3 separate regions of the Homo sapiens genome follow, and all the other regions are linked to region 2. The links come from fine-mapping of genetic effects on gene expression. A gene starts in region 2. Each other region holds a variant in brackets. All regions are shown on one strand. Distances are between the middles of the regions.

Region 1 (10,849 bases), 29 kb before region 2:
GACTTCAGTAGAACATTAATGTTCATGCTATGTGCAACAAGTGACTCCGTTTTTTTCTATTAACTAAGGTTTTATCTCTATGTTCCCAAGCAAATCCAGTGATTTGTTAATTTCTCCAATGATTATTGAGTCAATTCAGCGAAGACATCCAGCACATCCTACTTCTATTTATACTCTGGTCAGTAGCTTCTCGGGGACAGGGGCTAAAATGTACAGCGATGACTCCCCTGGCACCTGCATGAAACTGAGGAATGTCCATTTTGAGGTTCCATTTTCATGGGTCTCTGGGCATGTTTTCTATTGCTGGCATGTGTTTGGGAGTGTAGCTAGTGGAAGGGAAACTTGTGAGGCCAGGGGCTCAGCTGTGTGCACTGCTCTCTGCCCTGCGCCTACCAGAGGGCTTTACATAGTAAGTAGATGCTCAACAGTTATCTGCTGAATTAGTGAAGATGGTGGGGAGGGGGATACTGGAGTCTCAAAGTTCACATATACAAGATAGAACTCTGACTCTCCCACCCCACCGCTCCTACCATTTTCTCATCTCAGAAATGACACCCAGTAGCTCAGGCAAAACCCAGGAGCCACACTTGATTCCCCTTTCCCTTGCTCTGCAAGTTCAACTCATCAGCAGGAGTGTCAGTCCTACTTCCAAAATGAAGCCCCAGTCAGAGCGCTTCTCACCTCCTGTGGTACCACAACCGGAATCCAGGACACTGCTATCACTCGCCTGTCCAGCTTGAGAAGCTTCCTGAAAGGTCTGTTTCCACTTTTGCTCCATTCTTGCCCCCCAGAGGTCATTCTCCCCACAGCAGCCAAAGTGATTTTTTTCCAGTATAAACTGAATCCTACCATTCCTGTGTTTAATGCTCGCAGATAAATGCCTGTGGCAATTACAACAAAACCATGGCCTCTAAGGCTACCCCGATCTGGCTCTGTTTCCTGCCCCAGCTCTAACACCTCACTTAGTCCCACCATCCCTTTTAAGTTCCTTGAATATGCTAACGTTGACCCTGCCTCAGGGCCCTTCCCCTCTGCCTAGAAAGCATTGGCCTATCATCATGCACCTTCCCAACACCCTGGCTGGAGATCTCTCCACACTTTCCCCGTGAGATCACTCTCTATCTCCTTATGCAGGTTTTCCTTCATACACTAATCATTATCTGAAATGATTTCATTTACATCTTATTTATAGATGTTCACTGTCTCCCCTCACTAGAAGGTAAGCTTCACAAAGGAGAAAAGGGACTTTATTTTCCTTCTTTTAGTATACCGTACAATGCATGGTATACAGTAGGTATTTGTTTTGTCTGGTAAAAGGAATGAAAAGAAGGATGGATGTATTAAAAAAATTCGCTCAAAATGCATCAAAAACCTAAATGTAAGAGCTAGAACCCTAAAACTCTTAGAAGAATAATTAGGGAAAAATCTTTAGGAATATTGGCTTTGGCAATGATTTCTTGGATGTAACACCAGAAGCACAGGGAGTCCAGTGCGGTGGTCCCAGCACTTTGGGAGGCTGAGGCAGGCGGATCACTTGAGGTCAGGAGTTCGAGACCAGCCTGGCCAACATGGTGAAACCCTGTCTCTACTAAAAATACAAAAAAAAAAAAAAAAAAAAATTCAGCTGGGTGTGGTGGTGGGCAGCTATAATCCCACCTACTCAGGAGGCTGAGGCAGGAGAATTGCTTGAGCCTGGGAGGTGGAGATTGCAGTGAGCCGAGATTGCACCACTGCACTCCAGCCTGGCCAACAGAGCAAGACTCTGTCTCTAAAAGAAAAAAAAGAAAAAGCACAGGGAAAAAAGAAAAAAAAAAACAGATAAACTAGGCTGAATAAAAATTTAAAACTTTTGTGCATCAAAGGACATGGTCAAGAGAGTGAAAAGACAACAAAATTAAAAAAAATTGCAAATCATATATCTGATAAGGGATTAATATTCAGGATATAAAAATTATTCTGGTTGAGCACAGTGGCTCACACCTGTAATCCCAGCACTTTGGGAGGCCGAGGCGGGTGGATCATGAGGTCAAGAGATTGAGACCATCCTGGCCAACACAGTGAAACCCCATCTCTACTAAAAATACAAAAATTAGCCGGGTGTGGTGGTGCACGCCTGTAGTCCCAGTTACTCAGGAGGCTAAGGCAGGAGAACTGCTTGAACCCAGGAGGCGGAGGTTGCAGTGAGCCAAGATTGCACCACTGCACTCCAGCCTGATGACAGAGCAAGAATCCGTCTCAAAAAAAGAAAAAAATTATTCTTGCAACTCACCAACAAAAAACCTCAAACAGCTCAATTCAAAAATGGGCATAGGACTTGATTAGTTATTTCTCCAAAGAATATATATATATACATAGCCAATAAGCACATGAAAAGATGCTCACCATCCTTAGTCATTTGGGAAATGCAAATCAAAACAATAAGATACCACTTCACACCATTAGAATGGCTATTACACACACACAAAAGAAAAATAACAAGTGTTGTTGAGGATGTGAAGAAACTGAAGCCCTGGTGCACTGTTAATGGAAATGTAAAATGGTGCAGCCACTATAGAAAACAGTTTAGCAGTTCCTCAGAAAGTTAAACATAGAGTTACTATATGATACAACAATTCTACTCCTAGGTATATACCCCAAAGAATTGAAAGCAGGGACTCAAATAGATACTTGTAC[A/G]CCAATATTCATCGCAGCATTATTCATAATAGTCAAAAGGTGGAAACAACCCAAGTGTCTATCAATAGGTAAATGCATAACCAAAATGTAGTATATCCATACAATGGAACATTATTCAGCTATAAAAAAGGAATAAAATTCTGACACATGCTACAACGTGGATGAACACTAAAGGCACTGTGCTGGGTGAAATAAGCCAGTCACAAAAGGACAAATATTGTATGATTTCACTTACATGAGGTACCTAGGATAGGCAAATTCATAGAGACAGAAAGTAGGACAGAGGTTCCCAGGGGCTGTGAGAAGGGGAGAACGGGGAATTCGTGTTTAACAGACACACCACTTGTTTGGCATGATTAAAAAAAGAGTTCTGAAAATGGATAGTGGTGATGGTTGCACAACATTGTGCATGTATTTAATGGCATGGCATTGTACACTTAAAAATGGTTAAAATGGTAAATTTTATGTTATACATATTTTATCACAATTTAAAAGATAAGTTAAAGCAGGAAGAAAGGATAGAGGGACAGATGAGAGAGGGGTGAGGGACAATGCCTATGAGTATGGGTGAGGTAAAGACAAAGTTTCACATCCCAGCAGATTTTTAAGAGACCCTAAGGAATTTTGGAAATCCATAGCAAGGCAGAGGGTCTCATTATGTATGTGTTTGTGCAGGGTCAAGAACTGAAGTTCAGTGTTTGCTGTAACTGCAGATGATGGCAAGTTACGTTGTTCATAATGGGAGAGAGTCTTATCTGATGAGCTCAAAGGCCCTTGACATGATCCTGTTTATCTTTGGTGGAGCGGTGCAGGACTCTTAGAAGTATTTGAAGCCAAGCCTGAGCTGAGTTTCTGTTTCGCGTTTCTGGCCCCCAGTGATTGGTTAAACAGGACAAGGACATAAAGTTTGTGATATGTCCCTATACATATCAGCTCTGCCATAAAAAAGCTAAACTCTCTCAGAATTAAGATATGTTAAGCAATGATGTGCTATTATTTATAGGCATGTAAGAGTGAAGGACAACTCATTAACATGGGAACGAAATAAATTCAGACATCTACTTTTAGCACGTTCATGAAATAACAACATTTCAGCTGGCCTGTCTACCAGGGAGTGGAAGTGCTCATTTGGGTAGACAGCGCTCCTCAGTAATGAAATGTTTTGATTTGAAATGTAAATGTTTCTTTCCAGGGGTTTTAGAAATCCAGCTTGGAAGATTAATATATTCTTGCCTGCTCCCCTTGCAGCCTGGCTATGGCAGTTGAAAGCCTCTGTACACAGGGCTGCTATTAGCTGCCACCAGTATGGGCTGTGTTTGGTCAAGAATACTGGCCTGGTTGTTTCTTCCAGAGAAAACCAATCCTTCACTGCTGAACAGAAAAGAACCTTCATCAAATGTCAACTACATTGAATAACCTTTCTGGTGACGTTCTTTGGAGGAGCCAGTATATTCTTCTCACTACCTTAAATCCTGGAGATACTAATAAGCGAAGATTAGTCTATTGCATGTGTAAAACTCTGAAGTGGCCACAGCATTCCTGTAAAACAGTCACTGCCATCAAACAAACAAACAAAATTCCATAGTAGTTATTCATCTGCAAAATGGACAAGCTTATTTCTAAGATTCCTACCAAAGTCCTATCGATCTGTGAATATACACATATCTCAATCACGTAGACTCCAAATGAACCTAGGGCTAGTTTAATTAAAATTAACTATATTTCTCTGAATCATGAAAACATGATCAGAGGAAAAAAGGCAGCAGATGCCTTGGGGTGTTTTATGAATACAGCCTGAGGAAAATCTGGCTTCCTACTTTAAGACAGAACTTATATCCAAAAGATTCCATTTACCTCCCATTTTTGTAAAACTAAGAAATTGGTTTTGTCCAATTAAGATTTTGCTATCTGTGATTTCCCAGTATTGCATGTGCACTGAGGCATTCAGAATGATACCTAATTAAGTTGCTATTTTAGTGTTAATTTAGTGCTATTTTAGTGGTCTCAAATGTTAAGCTGGATCTGCTGCTACGTGGAATAGCTTTTGAAAGTGACAGTCTGGGCCAGTTGTGGTGGCTCACGCCTGTAATCCCAGCACTTTGGGAGGCTGAGGTGGGCGGATCACCTGAGGTCAGGAGTTTGAGACCAGCCTGGCCAACATGGTGAAACCTCGTCTCTAGTAAAAATACAAAAATTAGCTGGGCATGGTGGTGTGTGCCTGTAATACCAGCTACTCGGGAGGCTGAGGCAGGAGAATCACTTGAACCCGGCAGGCAGAGGTTGCAGTGAGCCAAGATTGCACCACTGCCCTCCAGCCTGGGCAATGAGAGTGAAACTCTGTCTCAAAAACAAAAAACAAAACAAACAAAAGAAAGTGACAGTCTGACCACAGTAGAATTAGAAGAGTAAACACCTGTCAGTGTGTACTGATGGTCAGCAATCAAATCGCCAAGGGTATCAGACAGTTTCATCTGAAAATCATGGATACCATTCTTAGAGATGGACCCACACATTTTCCTGAACACTTTCCTGGGCTAAACAAACAGAACCTTTTGGAAGGCCCCTTGCAGGGTGGACAGTGTCACTGGGACCATGCCATAAAGCCAGAAGCTACATTAAAATTGCAGTGAATGCCAGGCACTGTGGCTCATATCTATAACCCTAGGACTTTGGGAAGCCAAGGCAGGAGGATTGCTTGAGCTCAGGAATTCAAGACCAGCCTGGGTAACACAGTGAGACCTATTGTGTACAAAAAAGTTAAAAAAATTAGCCTGGTATGGTGGCACACACCTATAGTGCTGGCTACTCGGGAGGCTGAGGACAGAGGATCACTTGAGCCTGGGAGGTCAAGGCTGTGGTGAGCTGTGATTATGCCACTGCACTCCAGCCCTGTCCCTCCCTCCGGAAAAAATCACTATGACCACTCAGTCTACGGTGTCCCTGAGCTTTCATGGCTCCCCTGTCTTTGGTTGAGTCCTAGTCAGTCTAAGGAAACTTTTCAAAAAGTTATCCTCAGTCAGCCATTAAAGCTTACCTAGACAGAGGACTTAGGAGGAGAGGAATGGAGGTATGTGTTCGTTTAACATGTTTACTAGCCTGTGCTAGGTGCAATGGAAAATGGATGAGCCAAGCAGACAGATTCCTGCCCTCACAGGACTTACAGGCTGGTAGGCTTGGATAAAATAACTGTGAGGGCGTTAGAGAGTGTGATTTTTTTAGTGATTTGGTCCCTTGGACGTATGGGTTAGAATTAAGGGTTTGTGGGTTAGCCCAGGGTCTCTCCTATACTTTGAGACTCCTTTGTTTCTTGTTCATTTCTATTTGTAGATGCAATTGAATTCACTGAGCCTGAATCCAAATCAGGGAAACTGGTGGTTCACGGACTACATTTCATTTGTGCATTGGAAACCAGGGAATTCAACACAAACATCCGGATTGCTGATTTTTCTTGAGAGTTGGTAGTTCTACCAACACTGGGACCTGATCTTCTGCTTGGTGATGATAAACTGCAGCTGAGCTGCTCACCCAGTTAGATGGGTCACGTGCTTTCTGGCTTACCAAAGTCCCCACCACTCCCTAAGGCCTTACATGACATTGTTCACTGCTATTCTCTACCTGGCTCCTGTGGACACATGAGTCTATGAACACAATCTATATAAATATTATCTTAAGTGAGTGGTGAGGCTGTCAACATTCTAAGCACTAGCGAAGTGGGGAGGAAGAAGCTAGTTTGAGGCCCTTGCCTACTTGGAGTGGGGTGAGGGAAAAGCACCAGCACTTGTGGCAAGCAGGCTGCTGTGTGAGTGGATGTTTCAGCTGCTAACTCTGTTCCATGGTCAGGGAATGCCTTAGCCTGTGGCAGAAGATCCTTATCCTCATACCCTCATAGCATTGAGGTGACCTCTGCCTTTCCCATATTGGCCAAGAGGACTAAAGGAGTATTCTGGGCATGGCGACTATGGTGTGGTCCACCAACCAAGCACTCATGCTCTGAGCTCTCTGCTTTATGGTGAATTGCAATGAACAGGACCTTGGCCTATTAGGATCTGATGTGCTAGCTCAAGAGAGGTCCACTGAGGGATCAGAGTTCTTCATGAGAACCTCAGAAGAGCAAACTTTACACCTAGTATGATTCTACCGAATTAGGGATGCAGCTCCATTCACATTCTTCACAAAAATTTAAGAAATGAAATCAGACCCATAGTGACACAGATATGTATCAAGTATACAATCTCCCACATTCATCGAAAGCAATTTGGTGATAGTGTTAATTGAAAGGCTATGCCTATTCTTCACAAAATAGTAGAGACCTGGAACTCTTTTACAATGGAAAATAATATTGGTGGTCCTTTTGGAACAGCTTCACATAGTTATTTATAGGAGCCCTTCAAAGAACAGAAATGGGGAAAAGGGAAATTTTGCCATAGTTCAAGATCAGTTTGGTTGTTTTTGCCTTGAATTTTCATAAAGGATCCATCCCTTCATGAAAATTTTCATAAAAGCCTCACCTCAGCTACAGCTGTATGGATGAACAGAAAGGCGAGGGCCTGGCCCTGTTGCACCAGGAAAGGACAGAACTGCTGTCTGCTGTGGAGGAGACCCGAGAACCACCGGGGAGCCCTGGTTTCCATCCCTGCTAGCCCGCCATCAATGCAGCATGTCTTTCTGGAGGCGCTAGGCTCCTTCGCAGGGAGTGAGGAGCCTGCCGGTCTCTTACCTGGGGCAGCGTTCCTTTCACTAGTGCGGGGATATCAGCTTTGGAGTAACCAACAGCTGCTAGGCCATCATCAACATCCAGATCGAATAAGAATTTCCGGAGCGTGTCTGCCAACACCAGCCCTGCATCTTGGATCCTGGCAGTGCGGGTGTCGGCTCCTAGAAGACATAAAGTGCTGACTGTAGGGAGAGAGGAAGAAACGGGCTCTGGGTGGAGTTCAGTCACAAGATCAGTGAATACACCATGCACACCCACGGGGTCTCCCTAACGCCCAGCACGGGGCCATCGTGTGCCTCCCCAGGAGGGCCCAAGTTGGCTGGGGGAGCTCACTTAGCTCTGACATTTCGGAGGGGCTGCCAAGTCCTACATACTTGCCCCTTGTGTGGTAGGAAGAAGAGGAACAAAGACAAGAAGAGAGGTGCAGAACAAGGCAAGAAAGTCGGCTGGTGCTGGGATGGAGGAATGAATATTTGAAGAACACACAGCTTATGTAATTTCAAGGCTTGGAATTTGCTGACATCTAGAGGTGTATGATGTGTTCAACGTCTTTTCCCACAGCAACATCTTAGAAAAAGACAAATCCTTTGCAAACACCCTGTGAGACAAGCTTACAGAAGTACAAAAGCTCTAAAATTAACCACCAAAAAGAAAATAAGCATGATAAAAATGGATTATGTGTGAACAGGGAGGAAAATTTTTGTCCTCTATAGCTATAAAACTTTTAATTTTAGATTCTGTTGCCAAAGGGCAGGGTAGGTTCCTCTAAATAAATATTATAGAACCAGCTGGGCAGGACCAAAGAACATGAAGGCTCTCAGAAAACAGCGTTTCATATGCAGATAATAATGGTATTGATGAAAGAAGATACATAAGGGCAGAATTTTTACATGATTAGTAATTAAGAGGCCGGGCCTGGTGGCTCACATCTGTAATCCCAGCACTTTGGAAGGCTGAGGCAGGAGAATCACTTGAGTCCTGGAGGTCAAGACCAACCTGAGCAGTGAGACCCTGTCTCTGTTAAAAAAAAAAAAAAAATATATATATATATATATATAATAAAAATTAAAAAATAATGCACATAATCATGGAAATGGCAATCTGGAAGAGCCACGCGGGAGGTTCTGCCCTCAGGCAGGGTGACAGAGAAAGTTCCCAGAGGAAGGGAACTGATTTCACAACCCTTAGCACCCTACATTCTCATATATTCTAGCCAAACACATTCACTGCCAAGAAGTAAAGCCCTCTACAGAGTGTAGCATTATATGAAGTCTATGCAAAATGCCTCCCACAGTAGTCTAAGTCCACTTTCTCTTGTATTGTTCAAAAGGAGATCGTGACTACTTTCACCTCCATATTGAAGCACATTATTAAATCGGTTTTTAGCTTTCTCTTCCATGACAGTGAGAACTCTTAGGAATCCAGGAAAAGGTATGAATAGAACCAGATACGGGGCTGGCTGGGAGAGCAGCCGGATGAAAGGTAAACCTTGCCTGACAAGACCAGTCTGTATTACCCAGCGGCAGCTAAAATATGGATTAGGTGGAGTGGTGACACATGATACGAAGTTTATGAAGTTTTAATGTTCCTGGGAATACTGCCATAAAACACCATCGAAATCTCTGCATTTTCCTATGAAGTGTTACAGAAAAAAAAGAGATGGTAGGAAAAAGAATACATCAGTATTCTAAGCTAAGAAATCTAAGATGACATGGAGAATCAAAATATTTCATCGTGTGGGATAGCTAAGTGTAGATAACATTAAAACTTCCCATTCAAGAAGGAAGAATCAGTGGGTTCTTCCAGCCTGGAATTTGTCTAACAGAGGAACTCCCTTCTCAGTAGTGTTGCTAGTTGCCTAGAGTGTTAACTTTAAGTTCTCTAAGATTTTCCCATTTATCATAAATGTAGCCTATGATTTGCGCTCTCTCTTCTTATTTACATGCTTTGAATATACACAAAGGCAGCTGAGTCCCAAAATATGGCTGAACAACATCTCCAGTCCGAAAGAGAAAAGGGACACAGATCCTTGGCAAAGTTGCACTGTTTCCCCTCAGCACCCTCTGGGAAATGGAGCCCCTGGCCCCTCTCTGCCCTGGGCTTGTGTCATTAACATTCCCAGCACAGCACCTGGGACTCAGCGGGAGCTCCTGCAGGAGGATGTCTGCGGTCCTTCCTACCTCCCTGGAAATAATCTCTCCAACGGCTGGGCTAGGAGAGCATAATGAAGTTTTCTTTTTAGCCTTTCCCTTCTTGCCCTAACTAAACACAAGTGGCGGAATAAGATGTTTTGCAAGTTAATAAAATATTCAAGTCTACTTAAAAGAGTTCTTGTATTAGCAAAACACCAACATTTTACTTACCATTAAAGCTATCCTGAATATCATTTTATTTCTGGTAAGATTCAAAAGGTACTGTGGATATCTTATTATTGACATTATTTATTCTACAGTATGGCAAACAGACTCCTCTTTCAGGATATTTTTATAAAGTTTCTAATTGATCAGGACCTTTGCAGGCTTTGGTGAAAAAAAGTTTCCAGTTGTTTTGATTCTCTATAATTAGGAATTTACTCCTGCTTCCTGATACAGATTCATTTTATTATCGAACATAGCAAAAGTCATTTATAACATTAAAAATATAAAAATAATTATACTTTCCCTTGAGATAAAAACAGGAAACAGTATTACTACAAATACTCTCAATACTCTCAGAAACATAATAATGACAGAATTTTAGTGCTAGATAGGGCTTTGGTCAAGTCACTGACATTTTTAATCATATATTTATATTTTAAAAATGTTTTTAAAGAAACAGGATCTCACTATGTTGCCCAGGCTGGTCTCAAACGTCTGAGCTTAAGCTATCCTCCCACCTCAGCCTCCCAAAGTGTTAGGATTACACTGTGCCCAGCCTGACATTTCATTATTAAGCTATCGCAAAGCAATATTTTTTGGTATTGTCCTTTATGGTTCTTTTTTTTTTTTTTGAGAGAGAGAGTCTCACTCTGTCTCCCAGGCTGGAGTGCAGTGGCATGATAACAGCTCACTGCAGCCTCAACTTCCTGGGCTCAGATGATCCTCCCACTTCAGCCTCCCAAGTAGCTGGGACTATGGTCTTGCACTACTGTACACGGCTATTTTTTTTTTTTTGGTAGAGATGGGGTTTTGCCATGTTGCCCAGGCTGGTCTTGAACTCCTGGGCTCAAGTGATGCACCCAACTTAGCCTCCCAAAATGCTGGGATTACAGATGGGAGCCACCGTGCCTGGCCGGTCACAGAATTTTGAGTAATGGTTCATACCCAGTATTTCTGCCATCTCCAGGTGTCGCTCTGGAAACATCTGGGCCGTGAAAGTGAACACCGCTGGGGACGTGAGCACCACAGAAAGGCCATGGGGCTGGGGAGAAACGAAATGCGGTGACCGGCAGATGACAAAGCTGTTCTTCCCTGCATATTCTAG
Region 2 (5,000 bases):
TAAATGCAATCACTCATAGCCTTATAAAAGGGAGGCAGAGGGAGATTTGACCCAAAAGACAGAAATGTGAGCACTGAAGCAAGATGAGTGCCAGCTGTGAAGATGGAGGAAGGGGCCACAAGCTAAGGAACCGAAGGTAGAGCTCTAGAAGCTGGAAAAAAGCAAGTAAGTGGATTCTGCAGCACCTCTGAGCCTTACTCAAGAGGGAGTGTGGCCCTGCTCACACCTTGGCTTCAGCCTAGTAAAACTCATTTCAGACTTTTGACCTCTGGAACTGTTAAGACAAATGTGTGTTAAGCCACCAGGTTCATGGTAGTTTGTTACAACAGCTGTAGGAAACTAACATAGTGAGGGCTGCTCTGAACACCTCAAAAATTGCATCCCTTCCTTCAACATCCCAGCCTCCTTTATGTTCTCTGTAATAACTTTCAACAGCTAATGTACTCTCAATTTTACTAACTAGTTTGTCATCTATCCCCTGTGCCCCATGCATGGTGTGGTTAGGTTGTTTTGTTCCCTGCTGTACCCCAGAGATAACACAGTCAAAGCAGGGCTGCATTGCACATCTTTTTTTTTTTTTTGAGACACAGTCTTGCTCTGTAGCCCAGGCTGGAGTGAAGTGGCCTGATCTCTGCTCACTGCAAACTATGCCTCCCAGATTCAAGTGATTCTCCTGCCTCAGCCTCCTGAGTAGCTGGGACTATGGGCACCCACCACCCTGTGCAGGGCTGCACATCTGGAGACGGAATGTGACTCTTGCCCTCCAGGGCCTTCCCACAACCTCTCTGGCCAGTGCACGCCTTGCCTCTGTCTCCTTCAGTGCTGATTCTTTCCCCTCCATTCAGTTGTCAGCGCAGTTGCTCTATGGAATGTGTTGGGCAGAAGCCCAGAGTGCATGCTCTGTCCAATAGAAATGGCCACACATCACCCCGTGCCCTAGCCCACTTTGCCCAGATGAAACATGTGCCCAATGATGCCATTTTCCAATTTTCCAAGATTTTCATTGGAAATCTCCCACTTTTAAAATGTTTACCCTATTAGAATAATAAGCATGTGCAGAAGAAAGCACCATCTTGCTACTCCTGCTGTGGCAGTGCTGCTCCCCAGGAATTCACCCTCAGCTGTTTCCTTCTAGGTTAGAGTTTTGTTAGGGCTTCAACTGTCCTCCATACGCATGGATGGATGTGTTCCCAACTCACTCTTGAGCCCCAGAACAATACATTCAATCACCTACTGGGGTCTCCATCTGAATGTACCAGAAGCATGCTCAACTCAAAATGCCCTAGACTGAAGTTGCCATTTTCCTCCTAACACTAACTCTCCTACAATCCCTGCCTTGGTAAATGAGCCCACTGTTTACTTGATGCCCAAGCCAGAAATCTCAACTCTTCACTATTCAGATACAAAATCCTGTGGATTCTAACCAACCTCTCAGCATTTCTATCTACCCAAGGAACTGCCTCTCCGTGCATGAAGCCATTATCTTCAGGCTGGAGCAGGACAATGACCTCTAGTCCTTCCTCTTCACTCCACATTTCCACCAGAATGTGCTAACACAGTTCTGATTATGCCATACTCCCTTTTCATGCAACCATTCCAAAAACATATTCTGTGTGTGACACTGATTCCATGGGATATAAATGGTGTTGTGTGACAAAGAGTTCTATGATGACACAGGTTTACAACCAAAAATTTGAACACAGCTTTAGTATTTTTTGTAGCTTCTTGGAGCCCTGCATGTCTAATGTATATTTTGATTCTCCAAGAGGGCAATACAGCAGTAAGGAGCTTCTCAAACTTATTTGGCCATGTAATTCTTTTGTCATGGGACATTTTAAGGTATCAGTGTTTAATGGTGACAAATATTATTCAATGGCTTTCCATTATCTACAGCACACAATTCAAATTCCTTACTACAGGCCTAAGAACAAGGACTGTGAAGCCAGAGTATCTGGGTTCAAATTATGACTGTGCCATTTGCTTAGCTGTGTGACACTGGACAAATTCTTCTCCATGCCTTTATTTCCGTATCTATGAGGATGACAATACCGTGTGTCATAGGGTCAGTGAAAGGATTAGAGTTACTATTATACTGATAGTCCATTCAAAGTGTGTAAGACACTGCCGGGCTCATCGTATTAGCTATATTCTTATTCATGGTCTTTTATCAGCCGTCTTCTCCATCTTTACCTCCTCTTATAAAGGTAGGTCTACTTGTCTTTTGTGTCCTGGGACTGCATCTCCATCGCTGGTGTTGCTCTTCTCTCTGCCTGACGTTCCTCGCCAGTCCCTCGCCTTTCCTCCTACTGATCTGCACCTGTGAGCTCAAACTTTTCCATGTTTCCCAGGCAGACTTGTGCACTTGCACAGTCAGCAAGTATTTATCAGGTGACCAGGATGTACCTCACATTTCTGCTGGGAGGCAGGCGTGTCATGACATTGAATACCCTGACTCCCTGTACATGCCAGGAAGTGTGACTCTGCGACTTCTCACATCCATCCTTCCCTTCTACACCCAGTCTGCTATAGCCGGTTTTAGCCTCGTCCCCTCATCCCATTCCCCACTAGACCTCAAACTGCTCCAGAGCCTTTCATCTTTGTATCCCCAGAACCTAGAATAGTTTTTGGCACATAATATATGCCCAATAAATATGTGTCAATTGCATACATGAATTTGTCTTGGCCACCGTGCCAAGCTCTCCACTGCCTGCTACGATGTGGGACCAGGTCCTCTCTGGGCCTCAGTTTCTTTAACGGTAGACAAGCAGAGTAAAGGCTGCCTCACTGCGCCCTGAGAGGCTGCATCGCGCACTCTGTGACCTCGCTGTTCCGCCTGGCGCGCGGTGGGAGCCCAGGGCGGTATCCAAATTCTCCGAATTCTTGAAAGTAAGCGGAGAAGACTGCGCAGGATCTGAGCGGGTCACACCCAGGGGGCTGCGTGGGCACCCTGCGGTCCCCTGCCCGCCCGCCGGCCCCGCACTCACGCTGCGCGTTGCAGTTGCCTCAGCAAGTACGCGACCCGGGCTCGGGCGGCAGCGGCCATGGCGCTTGGAGTCCTCTTCCCTCCTCGGGTCGCTACACCGCCCCCTCCGCCGGCCAATCACGGAGGCTGCCCGCCTCCCGCCCCTCGGCCGCGCCTGCCCACCCGCTTCGCGGGGTCACCTGTCTAAGCCTCAAGCCAGTCGGGCTCAGGGCCATTTTCCCACGGAGTAAGAACCAGAACGCCAGCTGCCCCAGCGGCGCTCGCACCATCCACCCTTGAAATTGCCGTAGAAGGTAACTGCTCCGTAGGCCTCGGGTTCTGCCTTAAATCTCCTTACTTATCAACTCTATTTTTCACATGTTGAGGACTTGGGGGAAGGAAGAGGAACAGGGATATTCTTTTTCCACTGTTAATCCTTTAAAATGTTACTTTCCCTTCTAAGAGTATTTTAAGTGATCAAGACCCTGCCTTTAAACTGTTTTAACAGTAAACAAGAACCTAGCAGAGCCCGAGGGTTTTTGTTAAATACTGTGTGAATGGCTTTGCTTTTGATGAAAGCAAAATCAATAGTTAAAACTCTTACATCAATAGTTAAAACTTGCCATGATTAGACTATGCTCCGGGAGGGCTTGGCTGTGCCATATCTGCCATGTCCCAGTGGAAAAGCTGATTAACGATAAAGCTCAACTTTATCAGAAAGTATCCAAAGACAGTAACAACTAAACATTTGCATTTTTAGTAATCTGTTATTATGAAATCTGAATCCTTTATGGGAGATATTAAGTTTTACAGAAATGAATTTACTGCGATCAAACTGGAAAAGATTGATGGACAGGAAGACCAAGGACAGCTATATAAACATTTCACCTCCTAATCAAACCAGCTCAGGCCAACTTGACAAATGAATCAAAAAATAATGTTCTATGAGAACACATGTACACAGGGAGGGGAACAACACACATTGGGGCCTGGGGGCAGGGGATAGAAGGGGGCAGAGGGACTTAATACTTAGGTGATGGGTTGATAGGTGCAGCAAGCCACCACAGCACACGTTTACCTATGTAACAAACATGCACATCCTGCACATCTACTCCGGAACTTAAAAAAAGATAATAATGTCCTAATTAAGGATCTTATGGGTCTGTTTCTTTCTTCCCCCAAACAAAACTATACCTGACGTCAAGCTTAAAAACAAACACACACACACAAACAACTGGGGATATAAACGTAGAGAAAGATTTAAGTGTTTTCTGGATTAATGAGGATTATTACCATTAGTCAATGAAGCCCAAATTGATCATTTACAGGAAATCCATGTGTTCAGTGTTGAAAGGCATAAAATCTTTTTAAAAAACAGACATCAGTTTTACTACTTTGAATATTATATTTGATACCAAAAGAAGTATAAGTTTAGAAGTGGTATCACTGAAACCATTATAATTGAACTGCTTTTTTTTTTTGAGATGGCCCCTTCCTCTGTTGCCCAGGCTGGAGTGGAGTGCAGTGGCGTGATCTGGGCTCACTGCAACCTCCGCCTCCCAGGTTCAAACGATACTCCTGCCTCAGCCTCCCAAGTAGCTGGGACTACAGGTACCAGCCACCGTGTCTGGCTAATTTTTTTATTTTTAGTAGAGATGGGGTTTCACTGTGTTGGCCAGGCTGGTCGCGAACTCCTGACCTCAGGTGATCCGCCCGCCCCGGCCTCCCAAAGTACTGGGACTCTACAGGAGTGAGCCACTGCGCACGGCCTGCTTTGTGTTTTTCAGAAAGTAAACAAAAATAATCTGTACCAGGTATCCAGGTAACCGGCTTCAAGTACAATTTCTACCCAGTAGTCAGAAAGTTAAAAGTCACACTAGATAAGACATCTTTATTACTTAATCTTTAAAACAGTCACTTGCCTATTCAATTCTGAAACTGTTTGTTTTCTTTCCCTCCCCCGCACTCCCGCTCTGATACACAAACTTGTTGTAAAAATAATGCAGAAACATATACGTCAATCTAAGTCTCTGAAATA
Region 3 (10,849 bases), 430 kb before region 2:
CAGCGTAGGCGGAGCGGAGTCCTAGCGCGCATGCGCGCACGTCCCGGCCGTTGGCTGCGTCGCGGGGCCTGCCGGGACCGCCCGCGCCCTCGGGTCAGCAGGGGAACTAGCCGGGCTTGTTCCCTTACGTTTTAATAGCTTCACTCTTGCTCCCTCCCAGCGAAGCAGAGAAAAAATAGGTCTACGTTTGGTTTTTGTTGTTATCTCAGGCAAATGATGTTATGTTTAAAAAATTCAAAACGCTGCTTCAGGGAATGCAAAATGTCTAGTCACTTTAGAAGACATTCCAGTATTCCCTCGAAGGACTCAACATAAAGTTACCCTATGATCCAGTAATTCCACTCTTAGGTATTTATAAATACACCCAAGAGAATTGAAAACATATGTTCACACAGAGACTTCTACACGAATGTTCATAGTATTATTCATAGTAGCCCCAAAGTGGAAACAATATGAATGCCCATCACCGATTAATGGATAACTGTGGTGTAAGCCATACAATGGAATGGTTTTGGCCATAAAACGTGATGAGGCACTAATACATGCTACAACATGGATGAACCTGGCAAACACTATGTAAGAAGCCAGACACAAAAGGCCATATGTTGTGTAATTTTGTTTATATGAAATGTCCAGAATAGGCGAATCCATAAGGAAAGAAAGCAGATTTGTGGTTGCCCAGAGGTTGGTTGAGAATGCAGAATGATTGCTAATGCGTATGGGATTTCTTGTTCTTTTTAAATTGTGGTAAAATATACATAAAATATACAATTTTAACCATCCTAAAGTGTAGTTACACTACCTACGTTCACACTGTGCACTCATCACCACTATCTGTAGAACTGTTTTCATTTTCCCAAACTGAAACTCCATACACATTAAACAACTCCCCATTCTTCTCTTCCTCATCCCCTGGCAACCATCAGTCTTTGCTTCCTTGAATTCGACTACTCCAGGTACCTCATGTAAATAGAATCAAACAGTATTTGTCCATTTGTGATGGGCTTATTTCACTTTGCCAAACATCTTCCAGTTTCATCCATGTTGTAACATGTTAGAGTTTCCTTCCTTTTTAAGGCTGAATAATATTCCACTGTGTGTGTACCATATTTTTTGTTGTTCATGAATTCACACAGGTTTTCTTTTAGAAGTGATGGAAATGATCTAAAATTGATTGTGGTGATAGTCACACAACTCTGAATCTACTGAAAGCCAGTTGATTGTACATTTTAAATAGTTGAATTGTACAGTACTTGAATTAAATCTTATTGAGGTTGGCCGGGTGCGGTGGTTCACGCCTATAATCCCAGCACTTTGGGAGGCCAAGGCGGGTGGGTCACTTGAAGTCGGGAGTGGACACCAGCCTGGACAACATGGTGAAACCCCATCTCTACTAAAAATACAAAAATTAGCCAGGTGTGGTGGCGCGCGCCTGTAATTCCAGCTACTCTGGATTAATACTATTAGCAGACAGGATAATCACTTGAACCCAGGAGGCAGAAGTTGCAGTGAGCAGATATCGCACCATTGCACTCCAACCTGGGCGATAGAGCGAGACCCTGTCTCCAAAAAAAAAAAAAAAGAAACTGTTACCAAAAAACCCCAAACCCTTAAATTGTACCTGCTTCTCCACCATTAGTATTTCCTTTTTTTTTTTTTTAAGACAAGGTCTACCTGTGTCCCAGGACACAGTGGCCCAATCAGGGCTCATTGCAGTCTCAATCTCCTGGCTCAAGTGATCCTCTCACCTCAGGCTCCCAAGTAGCTAAGACTTCAACTATGCCTGGCAAACTTGTAAATTTTTTTTCGTAGAGACAGGGGTCTCATTTTGTTTCCCATGCTGGTCTCATACTCCCGGGCTCAAGCAATCATCCACCTCAGCCTCCCGAAGTGCTGGGATTACAGGCATGAGCCACCGTGCCTGGCCTCAACCTTTAGTGTTCTTGATACAGTTATCAACTCTGCTCCATTGCATTGGGTTGGATCATTTTCCATGAAAAAGTAATTGAGGTCATCCCTTTTCATATATAATAGGAGTGGCAAAACACCTCAGAGTTTGTTTCTCTGGGAGAATATAATCTATTTTAGTTGTGAGATAAAATACTTTTTCAGAGTAGAAATCAATTTACAACAACAATGAGGATGTTCAAATTGTCTTGTACTACAATTCTGTGGTAATAACTACAGTTTTAGATGGGAATAGGCTATGGTCTGGTGATGGCCATTGTATTTTAAAGTAGAATAAATTCTTCTAGAGGGTATCCATATATTTTAAAGTTTTTTTTGAGATGGAGTCACACTGTGTTGCCCAGGTTGGAGTGCAGTGGCATGATCTCTGCCTCCTGGGTTCAAGCAATTCTCATGCCTCAGCCTCCCGAGTAGCTGGGATTACAGGCACATGCCACCACGCCTGGCTAATTTTTGAGTTTCTCGTAGAGTTGGGGTTTCACCATGTTGGCCAGGCTGGTCTTGAACTCCTGACCTCAGGTGAACCTCCTGCCTTGGCCTCCCAAAGTGGTGGGATTGTTATAGGCATGAGCCACCGCGTCTGGCTATTTTAAAGTTTTGATTAATCAGTTCATAGCATAACATCGTTCGTTTCTGCACCAGAGTAATAGTTTTATATCAACCAAGTCCAGCAAAATCTTCTAATAGATTTTTATGTATTTAATACATCCTATAAAATATCTGCACAGTCAGGCATGGTGGCATGCACCTGTAGTCCCAGCTACTAGGGAGGCTGAAGTGGGAGGTTGCAGTGCATTATGGTTGCACCACTGGACTCTGGCCTAGGTAAAAAGTGAGACTCTTAGAAAAAAAAAATCTGTTAGACCTAAAATTGGAATTTAAAACCTTAAGAATTCAGCACATTTTATACATTGCAAACTCTCTGAAAATGATAGCGATATCTAGAGTCAAAATGCCATTGCTGCTTATTGCTACATACTTACAATACTTTATTTTTACAAAACATCACTAAACAGCAGAAAGAAATTACATGCAATCTGGTAAAATGGCTCAAATATTAAGGTGGTAGAATTATGAATTATTTTTATTTTTGCCTTTCATATAGCTTTTTTGCCTTTTAATATTTTTCATTGAGGTATAATTCATATGTAGCAAAATGAACGGCTCTTACATATTGTCTTATGAGTTTTTGAGTTTTGAGAAACACAAAGCTTTTATTTTTTATTTTTTGTTTTTATATTATTATTATTATTATTATTATTATTATTATTATTTTGAGATGGAGTTTTGCTCTTGTCTCCTAGGCTAGAGTGCAATGGCTTGATCTTGGCTCACTGCAACCTCCGCCTCCCAGGTTCAAGTGATTCTCCTGCCTCACCCTCCTGAGTAGCTGAGATTACAGACACCTGCCACCATACCTGGCTGATTTTTGTATTTTTAGTGAAGACAGAGTTTCCCCATGTTGGCCAGGCTGGTCTCGAACTGCTGACCTCAGGTGATCCACCTGCCTTGGCCTGTCAAAGTGCTGGGGTTACAGGTGTGAGCCACTGCACCTGGCCAATTTTTTATTTTTAAAATTTTTTTCAAAGCTTTCTTTTAATTTTAATTTTTAAATTCTGTTTATTTTTGCCATGACATATTTTCATCAGATAATTAAAAAAAATTTTTTTAGACACGGTCTCACTCTGTCACCCAAGCTGGAATGCAGTGGTGCCATCTCAGCTGACTGCAACCTCCATCTCGTGGGCTCAAGGGATCCTCCCGCTTCAGCCTCTGCAATAGCTGGAACTATAAGTGCATGCCACCACACCTGACTTAACAGGTATTTTAAAGGATGTATTAAATACAGAAAAATCTATTAGAAGATCCTTCTGCCTCAGCCTCCCTAGTAGCTGGGACTACAGGTGTGCACCACCACACCCAGCTAATTTTTTTTGTATTTTTTGTAGACAGGGTCTCACCATGTTGCCTTGGCTGGTCTCAAACTCCTGGGCTCAAGCAACCTGCCCATCTCAGCCTCCCAAAGTGCTAGGATTGCAGGTGTGAGCCATCATGCCCAGCCAGCCTTGTAATATATATTAAAGTCAGGTAATGATGCCTCCAGCTTTGTTCTTTTTTTTTTTCTTTTTGTTTGTTTTTTTGAGATGGGGTCTTTCTCCGTCACCCAGGCTGGAGTGCAGTGGAGTGATCACAACTCACTGCAGCCTTGAACTCCCAGGCTCAAGTGATCCTCCTGCCTCAGCCTCCCGAGAAGCTGGGACTACTGGCACATGCCACCATGCCTGGCTAATTTTGAAATTTTTTTGTAGAGATGGGGTCTCTCTTTGTGGCCATGGGCTCAAGTCATCTTCCTGTCTTGGCCTCCCAAAGTGCTGGGGTTATAGGCGTGAGCCACCCAGCCAAGCTTTGCTCTTTTTGCTCAGGCTTTGTTTAGCAATTCAGGCTCTTTTTTGGTTCCATATGAATTTTAGGATAGCTTTTCTAATTCTGATAAGAATTGCATACAATCTATAGGTTGCTTTGGGCATCATGGTCATTTTAATGATATTAATTCTTCTGATCCATGATCCACGAGATGTTTTTCCATTTGTGTCATCTTCAATTTCTCTCTGTTTTGTAGTTTTCCTTGCAGAGATCTTTCACCCCCTTATTTACATTTATTCCTAGGTGTTTTTTGGTTGTTGCTGCTGCTTTGTTGCTATTGTAAATGGAACTGCCTTCTTACTTGCTTTCTCAGCTAGATCATTATTGGTGTATAAAAATGCTACTAGCTGGGTGCAGTGGCTCACGCCTGTAATCCCGCACTTTGGGAGGCCAAGGCAGGCGGATCACCTGAGGTCAGGAGTTCGAGACAAGCCTGGCCAACATGGTGAAACCGTGTCTCTACTAAAAATACAAAAAGTTAGCCGGGCGTGGTGGCGGGCATCTGTAATCCCAGCTATTTGGGAGGCTGAGGCAGGAGAATCGCTTAAACCCAGGAGGTGGAGGTTGCAGTGAGCCGAGATCGCGCCACTGCACTTCAGCCTGGGCAACAGAGTGAGACTCCAGCAAAAAAAAGAAAGCTACTGATTTTAGT[G/A]TGTTGATTTTGTATCCTGCAATTTTACGGAATTCATTTTTCAAACCTAAGAGTTTTGGGGTGGAGTCTTTTACTTTCTTTCTTTTTTTTTTTTTTTTTTTTGAGACAGGGTCTTATTCTGCAGCCCAGGTTGGAGTGCATTAGTGGTGCAATCACAGCTCACTGCAGCCTTGATCTTCTGGGCTCAAGCGATCCTCCCACCTTTGCTCCCCAAGTAGCTGTGACTTGGGGAGCAAGTAGGTAGCTGTAGACGTGTACCAACATGCCTGGATAATTTTTTATTTTTTTGTAGAGACAGGGTTTCACCATGTTAGCCAGGCTGGACTTCAACTCCTGGACTCAAGAGATCTGCCTGCCTTGGCCTCCTAAAGTGTTGGGATTACAGACATGAGCCACTGTGCTTGGCCAGGTTTTTCTAGATATAGGATCAGGCTAGGCGTGGTGGTTCATGCCTGTAATCCCAACACTTTGGGAGGCTGAGGAGGGAGGAATGCTTGAGGTCAGGAGTTCGAGACCAGCCTGGGCAACACAGCAATACCTCATCTCTACTAAAAATGCAGTTAGCCAGGCATGACTGGCTAGTTTATCACATATGATAAACTACAGGTGTGTGCCTGTAGTCCCAGCTACTTTAGAGGCTGAGGTGGGAGGATCACTTGAGCCTGAGATTGAGCTACAGTGAACCATGATTGCAGTACTGCACTCCAGCCTGGGCACCAGGGCAAGAACATGTCTAAAAAGAAAAAAAACATCATCAGTGGAGAGGGTCAATTTAACTTCCTTTTTTTTTTTTTTGAGACAGTCTCGCTCTGTCACCCAGGCTGCAGTGTAGTGGCACCATCTCAGCTCGCTGCAACCTCTGCCTCCCTTCTGGGTTCAAGCGATTCTCCTGCCTCAGCCTCCCTAGTAGCTGGTATTACAGGCACCCACCACTACGCCTAGCTAATTTTTGTATTTTAGTAGAGACGGGGTTTCCCCATGTTGGCCAGGCTGGTCTCAAACTCCTGACCTCAAGCAATCCACCTGCCTCGGTCCCCCAAAGTGCTGGGAGTACAGATGTGAGCCACTGTGCCTGGCCTAACTTCCTCTTTTCCAACGTGGATGCTTTTTCTTTCTCTTGCCTGATGGCTCTGGCTATGACTTCCAGAACTATGTCGAATAGAAGTAGTGAAAATGGGCGTCCTTGTATTGTTCCAGTTCTTAGAGGCAAGGCTTTCAACTTTTTCCATTCATTATATTACCTCTGGGTTTATCATATATGGCCTTTATTATTTTTAGGTATATTCCTTCTATGCCTTGTTTTGTTGAGGGTTTTTATAATAAAGAGATGTTGAACTTTATGAAATGCTTTTTCTCCATCTATTGAGATGATTATGTATTTTCTCCTTCATTCTGTTGATGTGATGTATCATGTGTATTGATTCGCATATGTTGAACCATCCTTGCATCTGTTACATATACTTGACATAGGATCAAGTATAAATCCCAGTTGATTGTGGTGTATTATCATTTTGATTTGGCTGTGATTCCATTCAGTCATAGGCTTTTCTTTGTTGGGAGACTTTTTGTTACTGATTCAATCTTGCTACTCATTACTGGTCTGCTCAGGTATTCTATTTCTTCCTGATTCAATCTTGGTAGGTTTTATGTTTCCAGGAATTTATCCATTTCTAAGTTTTCCTATGTATAGTTGTTCATAATAATTTCTGATAATCTTTTCTACTTGTGTGGTATCAATTGTAATGTCTCCTTTTTCATTTCTGATTATTTGGATGGTCTTCTCTTATTTTCTTGGCTAGTCTCGCTAGCAGTTTATTAATTTTATCTTTTCCAAGAACCAACTTACTTCATTGATCCTTTATATTGGTTAGTCTATTTCATTTAGTTCTGCCCTGATCTTTATTATTTCTTCGCTCATCTTGGGTTTTGTTTGTTCTTGCTTTTTCTAGTTCCTTGAAGTACATTGTTAGATTGTTAATTTGTAACCTTGCTACTTTTTGGATGTGGGCATTTATTACCATAGGCTTCTCTTAGTGCTGCTTTTGCTGCATCCCACAGGTTTTGGTATGTCATGTTTCCATTTTCATCTGTTTCAAAAATTTTTTTTCCACTTCCATCCTAATTTCTTTGTTGACCCAATGGTCGGTCAGTCGTCCAGGAGCATGTTGTTTAATTTCCACATATTTACAGTCTCCAGAGTTACTCTTGGTATGGATTCCTGGTTTTATTCCATTGTGGTCTGAGAAGATACTTGATACATTGATTTTTAAAAATTTGTTGAGGCTTCTTTTGTAGCTTAACATATGGTCTATTCTAGAGAATGTTCTATGTGCTGAAGAAATGGGTGTATATTCTGCAGTTGTTAGATACAACGTTGTGTAAATATCTGATAGGTCTATTTGTCTAAAGTCCAGTTTAAATTCAGTGTTTCTTGATTTTCTGTCTAGGTGATCTAATACTGAGAGGGGGATATTGAAATTCCCCATTATTGTATTGCTGTCTATATCTCTCTTTAGACCTAGTAATATTTGCTTTGTTTTTAATCTGGGTGCTCCAGTGTTGGGTGCACATATATTTAGAATTGTTATATCCTCCTCTAGGCCTAGCATGGTGGCTCATGCCTGTAATCTCAGCACTCTGGGAGGCCGAGGCAGGCAGATCACTTGAGGCCAGGAGTTCCAAACCAGCCTGGCCAACATGGTGAAACCCTGTCTCTACTAAAAAATACAAAAATTAGTTGGGTGTGGTGGTTCATGCCTGTAATCCCAACTACTCAGGAGGCTGAAGAACGGGAATCGCTTGAACCTGGGAGGTGGTGGTTGCAGTGAGCCGAGATTGCACCACTGCACTCCAGCCTGGGCAACAGGGTGAGACTCAGTCTCAATAAATGAATGAATGAATGAATGGGAAATCCCACTTTAAAAAACAGACCTAATTTCCAAACTGCTTGTATGAGGGATGAAGTTATCAATTTTAACACTGTATTGAAAAGGTCATTACAGCATTACCAAAAATGCTCATGCCTATCCCTACTTTTCATAGAGTACATTATACACAAAAGAATGACTTACAAAATGTTTGTGTACAGTTCTGTAGTATCATTTGGCTGTGGAAAATCAATATATTTGTTACAAACATGCTAAAGATATTGGTAATGATAAATTTTTCAGTGATAAAAATTCAGAATATTTAAACTCTCATTCAAATGTTTACTCCTGCTGAAATGATATCTGAACAGTTTGCTGGCTTTCTTTGTAAATTGCATATGAAAACTTCATACAGAGGATCTGCTACCACTGTCTGCATCGTTGGACACCTATTCCCCAAGTGTGACAAATTTGGTAATTTTCAGTGTGTATTATGATGTGACAATGGTTGGGAAGCCCTATTTTGTACCATATGCAATAAAATGGGAGGTATGGGTAACATTAAAAATATTATAGTCTTCATTTAGACCTTTGGTATATTTTGATAATAACCATGAAATGGTTATTCAAAGGGCATACATTTTCCTAAAAGACTTATGCTATGAGAGAAAAGGTAAACTTGAAACTTAGAAAACATTTTGCTCTCTGAATATTATACACATAAGCCTATGATAATCTAGTAATTCATGTGTCCAAATAATTTCTGTTCACATTTTATTTTTCCCCCACACACATATAAATAATTCATTTTATAATGACCATTGCAACCATTACCAATTTCAAATAATGACAGACATTAGTTGATCTTTTTGCTGATTTTATTATACTATATAGATTTGTATTTCTTGTGATCTGAGAAACATCAAAATTCTATTTTAAATTTGTTCTTAAAAATATACAATATTGCACTTTAATTTTTGGCAGCTTAACAGGAATGAATGAGTACAAAAAATCATACAAGAAACTAGAATTTTTATTTTGCTTCATAATAAGAGCTTTGTGAAAAACAAAACTTACAGTAGTGCCAAATAAACCAAATATTTACAGTATAGATATTAAAGTCTTACCTCTAAAGGAAGATTCAGTGTATTGGATGTAAATATTATTAATATAAGAAAAGTCACCCCCACTGCCCAATTCTGCTGAACATTTTAAGCCAAAGAGTATTGGTGAGAAATGCTTCTGTGATTTCTTTCTCAAGACATACATGGAAGGGATGCTTGTTCTTGGAGCATCTAAAGTGGGTCATTAAACTTTTACAAAAATGTTTCCTCCATAACTTAAAAAAAACCTCTACTCTAAGCCAAGAATCCAAGGTAAGCTTATTTTTTATTTTTTAAAGTTCTTCTGTAGTTACTCTCTCTTTTTTTTAAAATAAATAGAAATGAGGTGTCACTACATTGCCTAGGCTGGTCTTGAACTCATAGGCTCAAGTGATCCTCCTGCCTTGGCCTCCCAAAGTGCTGGAATTTTATAGGCATGAGCCACCGTGCCCGGCCAGTTATTCTCCTTTACTTTTATAAGCATGTAAGTTAGTTGGTAGGTTACAATTTTAAGGTCTGTTTCCTGTGCTTTTTCTAAGATATATTGAATTGGATACTGAATACACATCTGCCTGATTTTCAACTTTTGTTACATTGTAATAAAACTGTATACATTTACTTTGACCCACAATTTGTTTTTACTTTTTTTTTCTCTTAACTAGGGTCTCGCTGTGGCACCCAGGCTGAAAAGTGCAGTGGCACAATTTCAGTTCACTGCAACTTCCATCTCGTGGGCTCAAGCCATCCTCCAACTTCAGCCTCCAGAGTAGCTGGGACTAAAGGCATGTGCCACCATGTCTGGCTAATTTTTGTATTTTTTGTAGAGATAGGGTTTCGCCATGTTGCCCAGGATGGTCTCAAACTCCTGAGCTCAAATAATCTGCCTGCCTCGGCCTCCCAGGGTGCTTATAGGCATGAGCCACCATGCCTGGCCTATTATTTTACTTTTTAATTCCCAATTAGGCAAATATTCTAGAAAGCTCAATTTTTTATTTTACTTAACCAGTTAGGAAAAGAGCTTTGAAATACCTATTTGCAAAAGCAAATACAAAGATTCAGAATGACTTAATAGCATACTAAACATTCAAAAGATGAATAGAACATAAATATAATGTATTTGTAATATAAATATATGACAGACATTCATTTTTGGTACCACCTTAAAAAATCCAGTACATTTTATTACCCTTCAGATCTTTGGGAATACTTAAAAATCCTAACCATTAAGCCTTTTCTTTTCCTTCAGAGGAAAAATAATCCACAAAGTTGAACTGGTATTTCAAAAACAAATAATTTCCTTTTGTTACTTTTTCTTTTTTTTTTTGGAGATGGAGTTTCACTCTTGTTGCCCAGGCAGGAGTGCAATGGTGCGATCTCGGCTCACTGCAACCTCCGCCTCCCGGGTTCAAGCGATTCTCCTGCCTTAGCCTCCCAAGTAGCTGGGATTATAGGCATGTGCCACCACACCCTGCCAATTTTGTATTTTTAGTAGAGACGGGGTTTGTCCATGTTGGTCAGGCTGGTCTCCAACTCCTGACCTCAGGTGATCTGCCCGCCTCAGCCTCCCAAAGTGCTGGGATTACAGGCGTGAGCCACCGCGCCCGGCCTGTTACTTCTTAAATGATCTGCAGAATAAAGTTATTCCAATTGTTAACTAGCAGCCAATGTGTTAATTATGCTTTTACATTTCGATCATACCATGAACCAAATATTTCAAACAGTGATTTATCATGGAAAAATACGGTTTCTTCTTAAACAACCATGTACCAATTGCATAGTTTTGGTGTGATAACAAAAGCCATAGCAAAGAGTTACAAAGGTATTAATATATGTTA

Which allele goes with the higher level. Alleles are on the strand shown, and positions count from the first base shown. SD is a standard deviation of normalised expression in the study named. Not every link is listed here.
For the expression in CD4 T cells of the gene that starts at base 3,056 in region 2, allele G in region 1 goes with a higher level than allele A (moderate effect, 0.72 SD a copy in Kasela 2017).

Evidence for each region.
Region 1: its variant is fine-mapped to the expression of ADHFE1 in CD4 T cells (Kasela 2017, PIP 0.90).
Region 3: its variant is fine-mapped to the expression of ADHFE1 in whole blood (TOPMed, PIP above 0.99).

Annotation. Positions count from the first base shown.
Region 1 is chr8:66,457,007-66,467,855 of GRCh38, reverse strand. ADHFE1 (alcohol dehydrogenase iron containing 1) reads right to left here. Exons shown (of 14, transcript NM_144650.3): 12 at 10,690-10,786; 13 at 7,391-7,548. Among named protein-coding and RNA genes, the nearest start is that of ADHFE1, 30 kb to the right of the region's middle. RefSeq lists an enhancer at 9,284-9,812. The variant A/G (reference allele first, on the strand shown) is at 2,674.
Region 2 is chr8:66,430,560-66,435,559 of GRCh38, reverse strand. It overlaps ADHFE1 (alcohol dehydrogenase iron containing 1), which reads right to left and starts at 3,056. Exons shown (of 14, transcript NM_144650.3): 1 at 2,985-3,056. The coding sequence starts at 3,043. RRS1 (regulator of ribosome synthesis 1) reads right to left here. Exons shown (of 1, transcript NM_015169.4): 1 at 4,827-5,000. It overlaps LOC102724687 (a long non-coding RNA gene), which reads left to right and starts at 3,194. Exons shown (of 5, transcript XR_929013.3): 1 at 3,194-3,276. RefSeq lists a silencer at 2,803-3,222 and an enhancer at 4,979-5,000.
Region 3 is chr8:66,859,945-66,870,793 of GRCh38, reverse strand. C8orf44-SGK3 (C8orf44-SGK3 readthrough) reads right to left here. Exons shown (of 19, transcript NM_001204173.2): 19 at 8,772-10,849. It overlaps SGK3 (serum/glucocorticoid regulated kinase family member 3), which reads right to left. Exons shown (of 17, transcript NM_001033578.3): 17 at 8,772-10,849. It overlaps MCMDC2 (minichromosome maintenance domain containing 2), which reads right to left and starts at 23. Exons shown (of 15, transcript NM_173518.5): 1 at 1-23. The variant G/A (reference allele first, on the strand shown) is at 5,045.